Linked DNA regions of Homo sapiens: region 1 is linked to region 2. The links come from fine-mapping of genetic effects on gene expression. A gene starts in region 2. The other region holds a variant in brackets. All regions are shown on one strand. Distances are between the middles of the regions. Region 1 overlaps HMBOX1 (homeobox containing 1). Region 2 holds the start of HMBOX1 (homeobox containing 1).

What was found. PIP is the estimated chance that this variant, and not a neighbour inherited with it, causes the effect.
Region 1: its variant is fine-mapped to the expression of HMBOX1 in whole blood (INTERVAL, PIP above 0.99).

Annotation. Positions count from the first base shown.
Region 1 is chr8:29,047,829-29,056,166 of GRCh38, forward strand. HMBOX1 (homeobox containing 1) reads left to right here. Exons shown (of 10, transcript NM_001135726.3): 9 at 1,126-1,220; 10 at 3,190-5,434. The coding sequence ends at 3,327. It also overlaps the pseudogene RNA5SP260. Among named protein-coding and RNA genes, the nearest start is that of HMBOX1, 160 kb to the left of the region's middle. The variant T/TA (reference allele first, on the strand shown) is at 4,070.
Region 2 is chr8:28,887,150-28,895,487 of GRCh38, forward strand. HMBOX1 (homeobox containing 1) reads left to right here and starts at 3,246. Exons shown (of 10, transcript NM_001135726.3): 1 at 3,246-3,529. INTS9 (integrator complex subunit 9) reads right to left here and starts at 2,820. Exons shown (of 17, transcript NM_018250.4): 1 at 2,725-2,820. The coding sequence starts at 2,733. RefSeq lists enhancers at 2,603-3,159, 2,799-2,998, 3,160-3,716 and a silencer at 3,369-3,488.

The sequences.
Region 1 (8,338 bases), 160 kb after region 2:
AATGCTGGGATTACAGGTGTGAGCCACCGTGCCGGATCCTAACTTCTAAGCCTAACAAAAGTTGCCCTAATGTCTTTCATTGTGTTTTTAATAAACCACAGTTAGTATTATTTACACTATTTGTAGTGTAATGGTAATGACATTATTATTTATAAAACTCATTCTTCTTAAAGTTCTAGAATATAGAATTAGACATGGCCCCTGAGCAATTGATTACTCCTGTGGTACATTTGAAAGATACTTGTAAGATCTTGAGAAAGGGAATGTAATACCCAGAATTTCTTCATTATTACTGGACTATGACTTAAATATTAGGAAACAATTGATTAATGGTTTGGAATGAAAGAGACTTAATAGACAAGGAACGCAGCAAAAGGCAGAGATAAAGAGCATTTAAGAAATATGGATTCTTGATGTAATCATTTATGTATATATACACATATCAAAACATCACCTTGTACACCATAAATATATACAATTTTTATTAATTATATTTCAATAAAGCTGAACAGAGAAAACAAAAATGCCAAAAGTGCCCTAGAGGGAACTACGAATACAACTGAAAAAGGAAGAAATAAAGGATTTGTTCCCATTCAAAACTGTAACAGTAATAAATAAGAATAAGAAATTTAAGTTGGTGAGTCAGGTGGGATGTTGGTTTTTAGCTTCTAAAATTGCATTTCATTTCTTCCATCCAAGTACTAACCAGGCCTGACCCTGCTTAGCTTCCAAGATCAGACGAGATCGGGCGCATTGAGCGTGGTATGGGCATAGAATGCATTTCATTTCCTTCCTTTGTAAATACACTTTTTATTCATCAGTACAGTTCTCATATGCTCTATAGAACCCCAAGATAGGAAGACTGTTTAGTTAGTTAGCAAGTATTTATGAAGCACCTAACATGCACAGCAGCAGAGACCCCAGAATGGCAAATGTGTGCCTCCCCTGACCTACATGCAGTTGAATTTCATCCATCTTACAGTCTAAAAGAAACAAATGTAGAGAAATACAGGTTCTTGTTTAATTACATTCTAATTAATTTCCTTAGCACAAAAATTCATTCAGTGTTTCAGCCATTGTGATAAGGTAACAGATAATTTAGGGATCTATTTGCTTTTTTCGAAGAAGCAGCAATCCTGGAGAGTCATGGGATAGATGTGCAGAGTCCAGGAGGCCACTCAAACAGTGATGATGTCGACGGGAATGACTACTCTGAGCAGGTGAGCCCCTGCGCAGCTGGGCGAGGTTCTTGGTGCCTGAGCAGGGGGTATAGTGGGACAGCTTAGTTCCTTGGGTGTGGCTGATGGGGTGGGGGAGGGGAAACAGTCACTGTCCCTCCACTCTGCTCCTGTGTCTAGTTAGATTTCATGTAATTTGAAAGGAATGTGGTAAGATTCAGTTGTCCTGTTGAATTTGTGAGAGATCGTTATTCACCCACATGGATTTATTGTCATACAACAGGATACTTGGCAAGTACGCAATGGGGAGGAGGAGGAGGGAAGAAGTTCAGAGGGAGGCAGAGAAGCAGAGAAGGTAGAAGAAGAGAGGAGGATCTGATCCAAACAAGCAAGTTACACCATTCACGACACACACTCAGTGTTTGAGAAATACTAGGGGCAGCTGGACCCCATGCCTAAACACGTACCGACGCAGGGCACGATGGAAGGCCCCACTCACTCTGGCCCCACTGCAGTGGGAACCCTCCTGCCCAAAGGAGTGGTTCTTCCAGAGTCTCTGGCACACTGACACATGCATCCTCTCATAAGTGCAATACCTGCATGACTCTTCACCTCGCCCTGATTTATTCTGCATTGCTTTTGGGGAAAATGTATTTAATTGTAGCCACTGCGTGGAGTAATTCAGTAACTAAGACTGTGGGAGTCCCTCCTCGACCCCCACATAGATGTTGACAGATTTCATTAAAATTTTGATAGGATTTAAATTTCCATTTGGAATATGCAGAGAACGCATGGTACCTTCCCCTAGACCACAGCAAGAAAACTTCTGCTCATTTTTCTGGGGTCTGTGCTTTTTTCTTGCTCCTCAGCCAGCTCATATAGTCCAATGTGTTCTTTAATAGCCTCTGTTTACCACACACCTAGAATGCATGCAAGTGTGTGCTGATCCCTTTGTAAATTCTAAAAACTAATCTGTGAACATCAGAAGGAAACAATGATGTCCACACTTCTGAAGAACTACCATTTTTTCCCATTTAGGACTCTAGTTAATAGCCCCAAGAGAATATTCTGTAAGTCTTTCTGTTCGGAAACATTCCTCTTTTCAGTCTACCCACATAGATGGATCATTTCCATCTTTTTTTACAGATGCCCTAAGGGCAGCACATTCCATGTTTTGTTTGTTTTTTTCCTTAAGGGACTTACCCTTTCCAAAGCTCTTTGATACGGAGTTCCCCTGAAGATGACAGGTGAGAAACATACCCCTTATTTGTAACACCATCTTCAGTGCCTGACGTACATCCTGCAATGCCAGCTTCCTTCACAGCTTTATTGTTTAACACATTGAGCTGCGCGGGGAGGACAGCTTCACACTAGTTCTAGGTAAGACGCCTGCCGCTCCCCTTGCACAGCTGCCTGCAGCAGGAGAGCTCGACACCTTCCTCCCCTTTCTCCCGTAGCCGTTTCTGGCAGTGACATGTGTCCTGTTGTAATGGAGAATTCTTTTTTTCTTTTTTTACAAAAATGCATTTTTTATCTGTAAGATGTAATTGTAAGTTCTGTCTAGTTTTCTCAGTTCAGAGAGGGACCATGAATTCTAATAATCTATTTGTAAGAGCAGCAATCTGGAATTTAATAGCTCACTAGTATGGCCTTCAGTGATTAGTGCTATATTTGTTACAAACAGAAAGATCCAAATTGTTGGTTTTATATCAATCACTGCAGGTTTGATCATCATCACCAGCAATCTTATTAATAGAATGAATAGAATTCTCAGTGATGAAAAACATTTTTTGTGCTTTTTACTTGTTGAATCATAAGATTATCAACTGAAAATCTTTGGACCTATATCCATTCAGTGTCTACTTAAATACAATTTACCTCTATTTTATCATGAGCCCCTCCCCCAGTTTCCTCCCACGAATGTTCTGCCTCCCCTTGCCCCAGCATGTCTCTCTGTGACTAAAGAATTCTTCCAATCCACTAATAACATTTCTTATTTCTGCACATCTAGGATGACAGTACGAGCCATAGTGACCACCAAGACCCCATCTCATTAGCTGTGGAAATGGCAGCAGTCAACCACACTATCTTGGCATTGGCCCGACAAGGAGCCAACGAAATCAAGACAGAGGCCCTGGATGATGACTGATCAGGGAGGTTAAACATGACAAGTTAACTTAGTTTAGACGTAGCACCTTAGCAGACTTTCCTCGGTCCTTAACATGTGTTCTTACAGTATAACTTGCAGTTTCTTGTATGTCAGGTAGCTGTTAGGGTCTTGTTCTGTGAAGATGGCATGGTGCCCTCAGCCTTTGCATATACTCTCTCAGTATTAACTCCCAGTAAATAATAACCAACCAACCAACCAAACTTCCCTCTCCCAGCCCCCGAGGCTAGAAAATCTTGCTGCTCCGTCTTAGCATTCCAAGAAAGTGCTTCCAGGTATTTAGATAGCCCTCAGTTCTCAAATATTAGACTACGTGTAAAATCTTGGGTACCTTTAGATTCTTGTAACACTAGTCTGTACTCCCTTTTCCTTCCCCAAGACTGATAGGATGCAAGCTGAGGTCGTGGCACAGGAATGACAGACACCATTTGGGGAGTATCCACAGAGTCAAAGGAACACTAGAATCCCCACCTCAGCGTGAGGATAATTGATTTCCAGCTGCAATAAGCCGTGCCTCATTATAGCCACACTGTGGCTAGATTATACTTCTTTGGGTGCTGTGCTAAGAATGTCAATGGAAAAAGCCGATCTCAGATTTTGTTTGAAGTTAACATGCCTGACACAGACATCCTTTCCTCTCACAAGCTGTGTGACTTAGTAGATAAAATACTGCCTTCTGCCTTTGGGACCATGATTAAAAACAAAGACAAAAACCAAAAGTCAT[T/TA]AAAAAAAAAAAAAAAAAAAACCCAGCTTGAGAGCATTGGAAAAAAAAAATATGAGCTGAATGTCTAATGGATGCTAAGTCCAGTTTTCAGAACCACTGTACATTCCACGGCACAGTTAGCAGTGCCTGCCTGGAAAAGTTTTGGAGGTCATCGTGGAAGTTGCTTTGCCTCCTGTCAGTGTCCCCTTTCCCTGCTACCAAAAAAGTCTTTCAAGGATGGAGCTAAGGTCAAAAATGAGTGAAAAAACTTGCAGTGTTTGTATCCATTAAACGGAAGCCCCCTCACTCTGAGAGGTCACTAGAGGACTTCATAGTGGGGTTGTGCTGCTTATCACAGATGCAGACACTTGCCCAGATAGGAGCAGAGAAAAGCAGGGGACGTTTCCTACTCACATTGTGGCTGTATGAGAACACGATGGGACTGCTTTGCTGTTCTCTTTACTCTGTCCTTGGAGAGGTGTGAAAAGCTGTATTGCTACAGGCAATTTATTTAATAATTGGAAGCCATATTGATAATGGATGTGGTAATATTTGTAAAGTTTAATCTACTTTAAGCGGCAGTAACTAATGGAATTTTTTTCCTTGATCACATATGTAGCACTTTTGTTACTTTTTAAAGATATTTATATTTGATAAATCTTTTTTTCATTTTGAGAACTCAAAATACCAAACAGTGAACTTGCATTCTAAAGTCACCCTGTGATCACCTTGTCATCTAGTAGCAAAATGATGAACTATTCATGCATCAAAGAAAATTACATCTGCTGGCCTTGTATGAAAATGATCTCTTGGCATCCCGATTAAATGACACACTGTCACTGTGGGTAAGAGGAAAGAGCCTTCAATGTAGCAGCACAGGGTGCGCCTGAAAGAGGCACAACTGCTGTGGATTTTCTGCCTCGCTCCATCTCTCCTATGTATAATGAAGCCTTGTTTAAAGGGGCATGTGGGGCTGGATGTTAAGCACGGCTTCTTTTTGTCCGTTACCTGAAAACAATTTCTAAGATAAAAGGAAGGTGCCATTTCCTTACCTCTTCACCCATCCTCCTCCACCAAATGTATTCAACTTAAAACTGTGAGAGAGAGAGACTGAATGACCTTCCTCAGTTTTCCCTTTCTCATTCAGGAGATACTGAATATCCGCCAGTTTGTAGTTGGTTTCCTTCCACTTAAGGCACACGCTGACTGCATCATTTCCTTATCTGTTAATCCTGCTTATGTGAGTGTGAGGAAAGTCTTTGAGAGGGCATGAAAGTGCCACCTTATATATGTCTGTGACTTTAAAGAGCTATATGCAGGGCCTGGTCCCACTTTTGTCCATGGATTTCAGGGGGAAAAAATATATGTACTTTTTTCAGCTTCCAAGCATTGAAGTGAAGTGGAGCCGTCTCTTCTGTTTTACTGTATTACTTGAACCAACAAATTCAAGAGTAGCATTTGTTATTCTCAGGAATGAGCCTCCCACCGCCCCCCCCCCACCGACTCATATTCTTTTTTGGTTTATCTTTTTATTTCAATTAGGAGATTACGTTCTCTTCCTTTCCTTTTATTTTGCTTAGAGGAAATGTAACATAGTCCCATTTTTGTGGAATTTTGACGCTTATTCTCAATTGAATCAGAAAGTACAAGGAGACAGAGAAAAAATCCGCTCTGACAAGCCACATCCATGATTGATTGTAAGGGGATTATTATAATTGATAGCTTCTTTATCATGGGATTGCTAGTATCATTTGTACTTGCTGGTCTTTTTAAAGGAACAGACTGACTCAAACTGTTAAGACAGCTGCAGTTTCTAAAGAAATACAAAGATTGCCGTGGATGCACTCAAAGGTTTCATTGTTTTAACACCTTTAAGGGAGAAAAAAAGCTTCAGAGAATAAAGGCAAGTTCGCATCCATGAAGGGCAGTACCAGACCCTATATGGCAATGTGGTAAAACTGAAAGAATATTTCTACCACTGCAGGAGAATGTCCTGGAGAGCTCAGTGGGAACAGGAGGAAGGCATCTTCCACCCACAGTTGTTCTTGTCATTGGAGAAGACCGCTGGCTGCTCTGAAGACCCACTGCCTTACATGTCACTTTTGCTTTTTCACCAAGAGTGAGAATTTACTTCCTTTGGGCCTAGATTTAAACCTGTTAGTTTTCTGTTTGTCACCAAGTTCAATTCTGCCATTTTGTCCAGGCCACCTTGGTTCTTGTAATGGTGTGTGGCGCTGCTACTGTTATATTTATTTCTAGTGTCTTTAGGTAGTATATTTCTCTCTTAGGCTTTTTCAGGTTTTAGAGGTGGAATTAAAATAGAAACCCTAAACTTCCGTATTACTGAAGGGAAAGCAGCCAGGCTCTAAAAACTCACACTGTATGCTTCTTGGTTGTTCCGCCCCTCCCGTTGTACTTCACTCTCTCCTTCAGGCCCCAGGGGACTCCCGCAGGGGCTGTTCCTTCCTGTCGAGGAGGACTTTCAAAGGTCTTTTGAAGTGGGGTGTGGGGGAACTTGCCAACAGGTATTCATATAATTTGTTATTTCTTTAAAGACACCTTAATTGAATTACTATGGTCAGATGGGTAAACTTTCCAAACTTTAAAAGCACTGACACAGGGACCTTTTAAAATGGGTCATCTTGATGAGATCTCTGCCCATCTGTTGATAACCCTAACAGTGGATGAAGGCTGGGGAGGGCAACACCCTGCATTCTTATCTGAGCCCTTCAGTGCTATTCAGTTCCAAATGTTTTGATTTGTTTCAACAAAGTCTGTAATGTTGGAGTGCCCTTAGAGCAATTTTCTTCACAATCAAAATCACAATCCTTTAAGTGGTTAATAAATGTAGTTGCCTTCCACTCACTTATGACTCTGGACAGTCCCCACCCCTGTCACTCACAAGGGCAGTCTTCCCACCCCACCCCCATATTCACATTCCCATGGCCCATCACAGGAAGAAGGAACCTGGGGCAGAGACGAGGAAAATCATTAAGGCAGAGGTGTACACATCCAGTTCTCTAGTTCTTGGTAGATTTATGGTGGCAGCCAGTTCAGTGGTCACCACCACCTATGTTAGGTCCATGTATCCAGATATATTTTACCTCAAAGGAGATGACTGAAGAATTCACCAATATAGTTATTATTTCCTTTCTGCCTGTTTAACATTTGTCTTTAAGAAATATTGGCTTTAGAAACTTCTCCCTTGGATATCAACCATCAGGCACCAAGTACAAACAGACTCATTGAATCAAGAGTCTCCAGCCTCATCCTGTGAATAGCTCCTCTTCTGTTTCCCTCTGACTAGGCCTTCAGCTGACTTCTTTGCTGGAATTTTCTAATCTTGTGACAGCAGGGAAAAGCTGGATGTGGTCCATCTCTTAACACAGACACTCCTCCCTGTCTTGACCAGCTACGTATTCCACTGACCAGCCTCATCATCTCTGCCCTCAACAGTGGAAATGATCTCTTTCCCACAGATGTTCTCCCTCCCTCCTTCCTTCCCTTCCCCTTCCTACAAACGTGAACTCTTAAGTCTTTACTCTCTGGTCTTCAGAAGGGTTTGGTTACAAGCAGTCTTCCCATTTAATTTGTGGCTCTGCCTTTTAAAATTGTTTTTTGTCTTTTGTTGTTCAGAGAACGACCAGAGTATTTTCTCCCCAGTGTGTCCCAACAGATTCTTAGGCAATAATTTTTCTTGTTGATGATCCCGTGCTCAGTAGCACACTACATTGAAGAACCCTGGCCCTCACCATTGTGTGTTGGTTTCTGTGTTAATCTCTGTGATCTGAATCATGTCAGAGTGATGATAGATTTTGTCATTTTGTTGTGATTATTAGTAATGTTTTACTACTGTATTCATTGGGGCTGTGTTGAGACCAGCCAAATCCATTTATAGCTTTACTGAGCCGGATTGATTTGTCAGGATTTCCCAAGTGAAAGTTGGGCATATTGCCCAGCTCCTGCTGGTGGTATCTTTGGGGAGTGTGGGATGGGGTGGGGGGATGTCCTGGGGCAGGGGTGGGAATGACACATATAAGGCATTCCATTTTTTTTTTTTTTTTTTTTTTTTGCTTGTGCTTATTAAATAGCAAGGGTGTTTACTCAGGATTTGGGGATCAGTTGTAGCCATGTTGAATTTGGCAAACTGAGCTGTGTGCCCTGAAAGCCCTCTTTTTATTTCTTCATTTCCATATTGTCTGACTTACTTCACCTAGGAATACCTGAGTTATCCAGTCCAGTGTTCCCTGATGAGAGTGGAAGATTTTCCTGGAGAGGCAGCTGTGCATG
Region 2 (8,338 bases):
GACAGAGATCTGAAATATATGAAGAAATTAGCCAGGCAAAAAAGAGTGAGGCAGGCAATGGAACATATTCAACCAAGTTAAGTGTAGGAGGTTATCCTAAGGGCAAAGGAAGATACTGAGAGGGTTTCATGGAACTCTGCAATTAAAACAACTTCCGGATGCAGAGGAAAGAATGAATTTGAGAGGGTTAAGACTGAATGCAGAGAGACCAGATAAGGGGTCTTGTTGAATTCCGATTACAAAGACAGTATTCTAGTTGGACTGGAGAGAAATAGAACCTATTTAAGAAAGCTGCATTTAGGAAGCAGAATCAATAAGAGGTGGTCATAGATTGTGTGTGGGAAGGGTACTCTGGAAAGTGAATCTCAAAAATGAGAAAATGCTAAACAAAATGTGTTTTTGTTTCATAATTATAAATTTAAAACACAGCCTATTACATATTTCTGAAGCAGTACACAAAATTAAAACTTTTAGGCCATGGGAGGACTTATTCCAACCATTTGGGAGGCATGACACACCCATCTAACTTACTGAGCAACAATGCTTTTGGTATGTTGATGGGAATTCTCAATTACATTTATCTATCAACTACCAAATAAATTTTAGTATGTAATACATAGTTGCAAAGTAAAGAGGGAGTATGAGTATCAATAGAATACTTCCTTTTCCTCTGAGACATCTTTGGTTCTTAATGGAAAAAATAATTTTCCACTTTTTTACAATCCCCGGTTTCATATTTCTAAATAAATTAAGCAGGAGGATTTTATGAGCAAACTAAAATATATGTAAAGTAAACCCTGGCTTTTTGATACCCTCACTAATGAGTTGTTATGGGAAAAACTATTTCACACTTCCCTGCCTTCTTAAACTGAACACATTAAATATAATTTGCTCTTTATTGAGAACACAGGGTCCATGCTTTAGCCAATAAGGTACCAAGCTCTTATGCTCCTATAAGCTGACCTCTTTCATGGAAGGCCCTGGCTTACTTATCCTTATCAGTTCAAGAGTCACGTTTCCAGGAAGCTGTCCCCTGACCTCCCCAATCCTCTGTTCTCTGAATTCCCAAAACCCTGAACACGCCTCTATTTCACCATGAACACAGTGAATTATAATTTCGGACCAGGCATGGTGGCTCATGCCTGTAATTCCAGCACTTTGGAAGGTTGAGGTGGGCAGATACCTTGAACCCAGGAGTTTGAGACCAGCCTGGGCAACATGGTTAAACCCCATTTCTACAAAAAAAATAAGCAGGGTGCAGTGGTGCGCGCCTGTATTCCCAGCTATATGGGGAGACTGACGCGGCGAGAGGATCGCTTGAGTCCGAAAGGTGGAGGTAGCAGCGAGCTGAGAACGCGCCACTGCACTTCAGTCTGGGCCCCACAAAGCCAGACCCTGTCTCTAAATAAATAAATAATAACTTTGGTTTACTTTTCTATCTTCTTCTTAGGTTGCATGCTTCTGTAGGGCAACGGCTATGACTTTTAATTCTGCATTATTAAATGTGTAACACACTGACCCAGGGGTAAGTTGCTATTCTCAAGGTTTAGTGACCCGCATCCTTCCCCTTATATAAACAGATTTATACGGGGACAATTTCGGAATTGAATCCACTTTTAATACTTTCTCTGACTTCGCAGAAAACAGCTGGCTTTGCAGAATATATGCCTGTAGCACAATGATTATCAAGATGAGGGTAGGTGTGTTGTGTGGTTTGGCAAAGCATGTTCAGATAATTATATAAATGGTAAAAAATAAACTTTTTTTTTTTTTGAGACAGAGTCTCGCGCTGTTGCAAGGCTGGAGTGCAGTGGCGCGATCTTGGCTTACTGCAACCTCTGCCTCCCGGGTTCAAGCGATTCTCCTGCCTCAAGTAAAGCTTGACAATAACTTGGCTGCACAAATATGGGTTTTAAAAGGTTGAGAAACAGTGTTTCACACCTGCCTTTCTACACTATGTTATTAACTAATTGAATCGAGTTGGAATAAACTAGTTAGACTTGTGTGCACAATGAGTCAAATGGCTCAAATCAAAGGTCTGAGGAGCCTCCATGAACCAGGTGCTTGAGCTGTGTGATGTTAAGACTTCAGGTATACCGAGCACGCTTCATTCAGCCTTGGCTCATGAAGTCCCTACAGTCTTAGAATGGAATACCATATAACACTTCTCTGCCCATCTAAATCCCATGCAGGGTTTAAGACTCAACTTCTCCACACTCTGACCTCGTCCTGAATTCCAAGGGCAGTGAGGAGTCTATATAACAGGATATTTAATAAGTGATTACGTTCTGCTGGATGTTTTTTACTGTCTGCTTAAATCTAGCCAGTCTCAACAACAGTAGGGAGACAGGATACTCAAGCGCCAATCGAATGGAAACGGATTGTTAACAGCCTATTATAACCCTCACGTGGGAACCAGGACGTCCAAACCTGGTTAACAGAGCCCACAGAGTTCATGGGCGAAGGACTGTGACAGTCAACCTCTTGTCTGAACAAAAAGACCCACTAACGAGTGAAAAAAGACCTCCTGGGAGGGATGGGGTGGGGGAGAGGGAATTCAAACCTTCTCAACAACAAAAAGCAGCTTTCCTTAGCCCACTCCACTTTCCAGCTCAATAATTGCTACCCCTCCCGTGCGACGATTCCCTGCCCAACGTAGGAAAAAAAGAGGTCCAAAAGGTTATAGCATCACCTTTGCCCTCTGACCTAGGAGCGAAGACTCACCAGTTTCATAATGGACTTTTGGTGGTTCAATAGCAGTCACTGAACTCCTCAAACCCAGGAAGCGTCTTCCGGTGCAATCTCCGCCACCTGCCAGCCGAGAGCATCGCGGGACTTGCAGTCTTTCATCCTCACGTCCCTTCCAGGGGAATAATGGGAAATGTAGTCTCCCCTCCAGGCATCATGGGAACTGTGGTCGCCTTTCCTTTTCCTCCCTTTCCTCTCCGAACGCCTCCTTCCGTCAGCTCAAATTCATCCCAGCCGCCAATGCATCCTCCCTCTCCACCCCAGCATGATATCATGTCTTCCTTACGGGCCTGGGGCCCATGGTGTTCTGGGATGTGTAGTCCCGACGGCTCCGACTCCCCTTTCCCTCCTCCCAAAGGGAAGGCGGATGGGCACGGGGCTTGCCGGAAGTTGTAGTTCCCTTGGCCCTCTAGGCGCCGGGCTCCGCAATTTTTCTCAGGGGAGGCAGGAACTACAACTCCCAGGGACGCCCGGCGGCAGCAGGTGGGAGAGGGGCTGTTGATATCAATATGGCGGTTGTCAGCCAGACAAAGACAGTCAGTCTGATGTGATTGAGACAAGGGAGGTTTTTCAGGGGGAGACTGGGAGATAGGGGCCTCCCCTCCCCCTTCTCCTCTTCCTGCGCCGGCCTCAACCCCTCCCCAGTCCCCTCCCGACGGGCGCCCCACGCGGAAGACACCCCTCCCCCTCCCGCCTTCCCTCCTCCCTATCTCAGCCCTTCGTACTGGGACGTTGGGGAGGGGGCTGTGCCGGGCGGAGAGAACTCAGCGAGGATTCTGAGGTGAGTCGAGCGGTTTTGAAGCCGGACTACCTCAAGTCTCTTTCCTCACTTCTTTCTCTTCACTTAAAACAATTTTTTTGGAGGGGTTTTGGGGAGGAAGTGAGCGGACGCTGGGGATGGGTCTCGTAAGCGGCCGGATTGAGAGGAGGGAGGAAGCAGGGGGCTTCCGAGTGGGTGACCCAGACGCGGGCTGTGGGGTGGGGCAGTTCGTGGGGTCCGGTCCTGGAAAGGCGTCGACTGCCCCCCAACTCTTCTGGTTTCCTCTACGATGAGCGGAAGGTTTGAATCCTGGAGGTGGGGTCTCCGGTGTGGAGTTCTGGAAACTGTGAGGTGATTTGCAGGTGTGTTGGTTTGTTTGGGGTGTGTAAGTGTGTTTAAACTGTGTGACGTGTACTTGTGTGCTCTGCTCGTCTTGGAGCGGTGTCTGTAGATGGGAAGTTAGACAGCGCGAGTCCTCGCTCGCTCTGGGCCTGGGCTGAGGGGCGGGCGTGAGGTCCTGGTGCTGGGCGTTTGGGCTGGCGACGTGGTGCGAGGCGGCCGGGCTCAACAACTCGCTTGTGTCCCGTCGCCCGCTCACACTCTGCCACTCGCCTCCGCCCCCTCCCCTGGACGAATCTCCACCCCAAACTCCAGCCACGAGAACTGTAGAGATGGTGTGATGTGGAGATGGATTTTTTGCATCCTCAAGTCGGTAGATAGGTGGGAAAGGAAAAGTGTTTCTTAATATTTTATTCCGGAACCGTGTTTTGGTTACACTATTGGGGCTACTTTGAAAGGCGTCCTCCACCCACCTTCACCCCGAAACAGTAGGTAGAGGTATCTTGTCTTCGTGTGAATTAGATGAATAATTGCTGAAGATTCGGGGGGCCTGGGGTGGGGGTCGGGAGTGCTGGATTGTGTACGCGTCTGTGTGTGTCTACTAAGGAGACGGAATGTCTGTTATGTATCTGGAGATAGGGCGACTTATTTTCGTAGCAGGAGGAACTGTTGGAAATTATTTGCGGGAGAGGGGGTGCGCCGAAAGGCGCTGCTTGTATTTTTCTTCTACTCCACCCTGTTCTGTCTTGCATTTGCCTGAAAGCTGGTGGAATGGAACAGTGAAGAAGCATTGGGTGAGTAAAGGGAAGAATGCAGTTGGCATTAAAGATAACACTATGTAAAGTTGAATGGTATAAAGTGATTACTGTTTTTATTTACGCTGAAGCTTAAAAAAAATCACCCATGTATCATATAAGGTAGAGTGATGTGACTAGCTCATTTCTCTGGTATCCTGCAGGTACAGAAACCTCTGGCTTCCCTCTTCCTTCCTTCCTATCCTCCCTCCTTCCTTCCTTCCTTAAGTCCTTCCTTTCTTTCTTGGCTTCGTACAACATTTCTCTTTCTGTTGGACATAATACCGCCTGTGTCTTTTTATTTAGTTTGTGCTAATATGGTTGTGCTTTTTGTGGTTTTACCATAAAATGCATCGTTAAATGCATTTATTATTTTGCATTTATGCTGCAGGTAATTATCACATCAGGATTGCAGTGCTTTGCATTAAACTTATTTTAAAATTGTGCAATTAAGTTGCTTGATCTAGCTGAATTATGTTTCTAAGTCAAAGTTGGGAAATTTGAATTCTAAATTTTTTTTCAAATTTCAATTAGAGTTAAAAAGGAAAGGATTGCAACATCTCTTATTTCTCACAGTTTTTAATATTTAATAACACACTAGGAGAATTTAAGGTCATATTTTGTACTTCCTTATTAAGTTCTTCAATAATCCTTATGTGACAATTTTTTTAGTGTAACGGATTTTTAAAGTAAAGAAATTGGCATAATTTCTATTTCGACTGTTGAGAATTGAATATATTCCCCAAACTTATCAATTCTTGAATCTGCCACCTATCATCAGTAAGGGACCTTTAGATTCTATGATAACTGAAAACCACATTGATAGAGTGTGTAATTTTATGATATGTCCTCTAACCATTGATTTAAAATTTTTGCTGTTGGTCATTCACACAGATAAGGGGGACTGAAAGAGTGAGGTAGCATGTATATTTCAATTGACCTGAATAGAAAAAAAAATGTGATTTCTAAATCTCAGATGTAGAATATACAATATGTTGATTCAAAACTAAGCCATTAGTTTGTGATAGACCAGGATTTTCAGAATCATTTGTTTTAAGCTTGTATCTTAACTTGAAACACTACTTTGCAAAAACCAGAGAAAAATCCTACGTAACTACTTAACGGAGTGTTTTGTTTTATTTTTCTGAAGCATATTATAATAGTCATGGAGTTTTTTAAAAAATGTTTAATAATTATTTTAGAAGTAAAAAACCAACATGTTTGTTAATATTTTAAATTGGAAAAACACGAGTGTTTTCTCTTCCATCTACCCTTACCTCAAAATTTCTTTTTGTTTTGTCTATAGAAGTGCAAAGTTATTTACTTGAAAAAGCATTCATTAAACTTTTTCTGGCTACTAGTGGGATCAAAATCATTACATGTAAACCAAATATATTCCCAGCATTTGTTGGGGGTGATTCTGTTGCATTTTAAGTACTGGGCATTAAAATGATGTAAAGCCTTTACTGCAGGTTAAAGCATAAAACATTCTCAGCATGTGAGAGTCATATGGTTTACAAATAAAGTAGAAAACCAGGGCATGGGTGCTTGTCCAGCTTACAATTTCATCCCGTAACTGTGAAAGACACATTTATTTTAATGTGATTGCTTCTAAAGATGTTGCCTGTATTATGGGAAGTTGAAAATCTAAGCTGCTTTTAACTAATCTGTTGCTAGTTTAGTTTACTGCATTTAGTGAACACTATGTATGGTCACAAATACGCATCAAGGAAAGGAGCCTTTAGCTGGAAGTTGAATGCCTTTAGTGAGGCTTCGTTTTCACTGCTGTACAAACAGATTTCAGTCTTCTAGCCCAAATCCTCAGTTAAAACATCGCTAATAGAAACTTAATAGCTCAGTGTTCCTAAGTTACAAAATATGTGGCAACAAATCTGTCATTGTTACATCATTTAAAAAATAGCAACCAGCTTATGGCAATTTTTGTGGCAAGTGTTGATTGGAATTCTATTGCTTGTTTCATAGATATTGAATACATTGGGAATATTTAGGCTTAATTTGTGTATTTTGAGTCTCCTGTACACTGTATTCAGCACATCCCACATTTAGGGCTCCCGTGCAATTTAGTTCTGTTCATTTCATTGTAGCTCTTGCTTCTCTTATTTTTGTATACAGCTCTTTAAACCTGAATTATTTCTCTTGGGAATCAGGTATTTATGTAGAATGTTGTCATAAGTGAAAGTTGGCATACCACTCAACTTTTTAAATACATGAACATTTATAGATAAACCGAATAGTGCTCATTGAAAATGTGTTGGTTTTGTTTGTTTTGTGAACCAGCTTTATTTAGTTCTTTGGCTTCTGGAATTAATTTTGTAGCTCACTTTGCTATTCTTTGGCTAGATTTTTCTGTTAACAGTTGGCTTTTACTTCCCACTGTAGTAGAACTGTAATTTATTAAAGCATTGTTGTGAGTGAAAAGCATGGCTTGTCTAGAGTGCCATATATGTACACCCACAATACACTCATACATAAAATACTTTTATGTTTATTTATTTATTTATGAAATTGGTGTATATCTATCAGACATGCCTCCCATAAGAAAGAATCTGAGCCACAAATAGCAGAAGACCTTGAACTTTGACTGAAGCTAGAAACCAAAGAGTAACCAGCACATGTTGTCCACATTATAGAAGCTGAGGAGATTTTCATTATCATTCCAAACCATTATTTTCACAGATTTTGTTAAAATACAGTTCTCTCAAAATGGAAGCTATTGATATTGAAAGTTTTCTCAAAATATTAGTAAGTAAGACGTAGCATGGATTCCTAGGTGCAGCTATTCCCCCACATTGCCCTTACTGGATTTAGGGCCCATCATAGGCGCAGAGTAAAGATTTTTCCATGGGATTATTTGATGTAAACTTTTAGTTGCAGTGTATTCAAACATAATCCAGTGCTTTAGATAATTTGTTTTCCTTGACCTTAGATGAAACAAGTTGGAAATTTACTATAACATTGTTTTGGACACTTTCCAAGAGCATTTAGCTCCTGGAAGGGCCCTGGCTTTAGCATGGTTTTTACCCTTATAGTGGTAATAAAGTTGAAGTTACATTAAGTTTTTCCAGTGATTAGTGTAATCTTAATGCAATATTTGACAGATTCTTAGGCTATAGTTTTTTTTTAACATTTGCAAAAAAAAAAAACAGTAACAATAGTCTGATTTTAGCTTTGAAGTGATCAATTATTTTAACTTTTTCACCCTTAAAATGGGTGACACTAGACTCCTTCCTGTTAAGTGGTAAAATGATTCTAATCCAGTCAAAGGGCACTTAGGTTTTTCTTAAATTTAGAGTGTGGATTGTGATAAAAATGTTGACTAAATTCCACATGCTGAGTATGTATTCTCTCTGGCTGCTTCTTTGTTTATCTTATGTCCAGAGATGGTCCACATGTGGTGTATTGAAAATATTAGTAGCCTCATTACTGTATACGTATTAAGTAGCGTGGAGTTGCCAAGTGGCAGTAACTTTAATTTGTATCTAGTCACAATTTTTATAGCAAGAAAGTGAAATGCTGTGGGTACTGCTGAAACAGGGATGACTTAAGACTGAATTGTTCTGCTTTAAGATTTTGATAATATAGGCCAGGCATGGTGGCTCATGCCTGTCATCCCAACACTTTGGGAGGCTGAGGTGGGCAGATCACCTAAGGTCAGGAATTCGAGACCAGTCTGGCC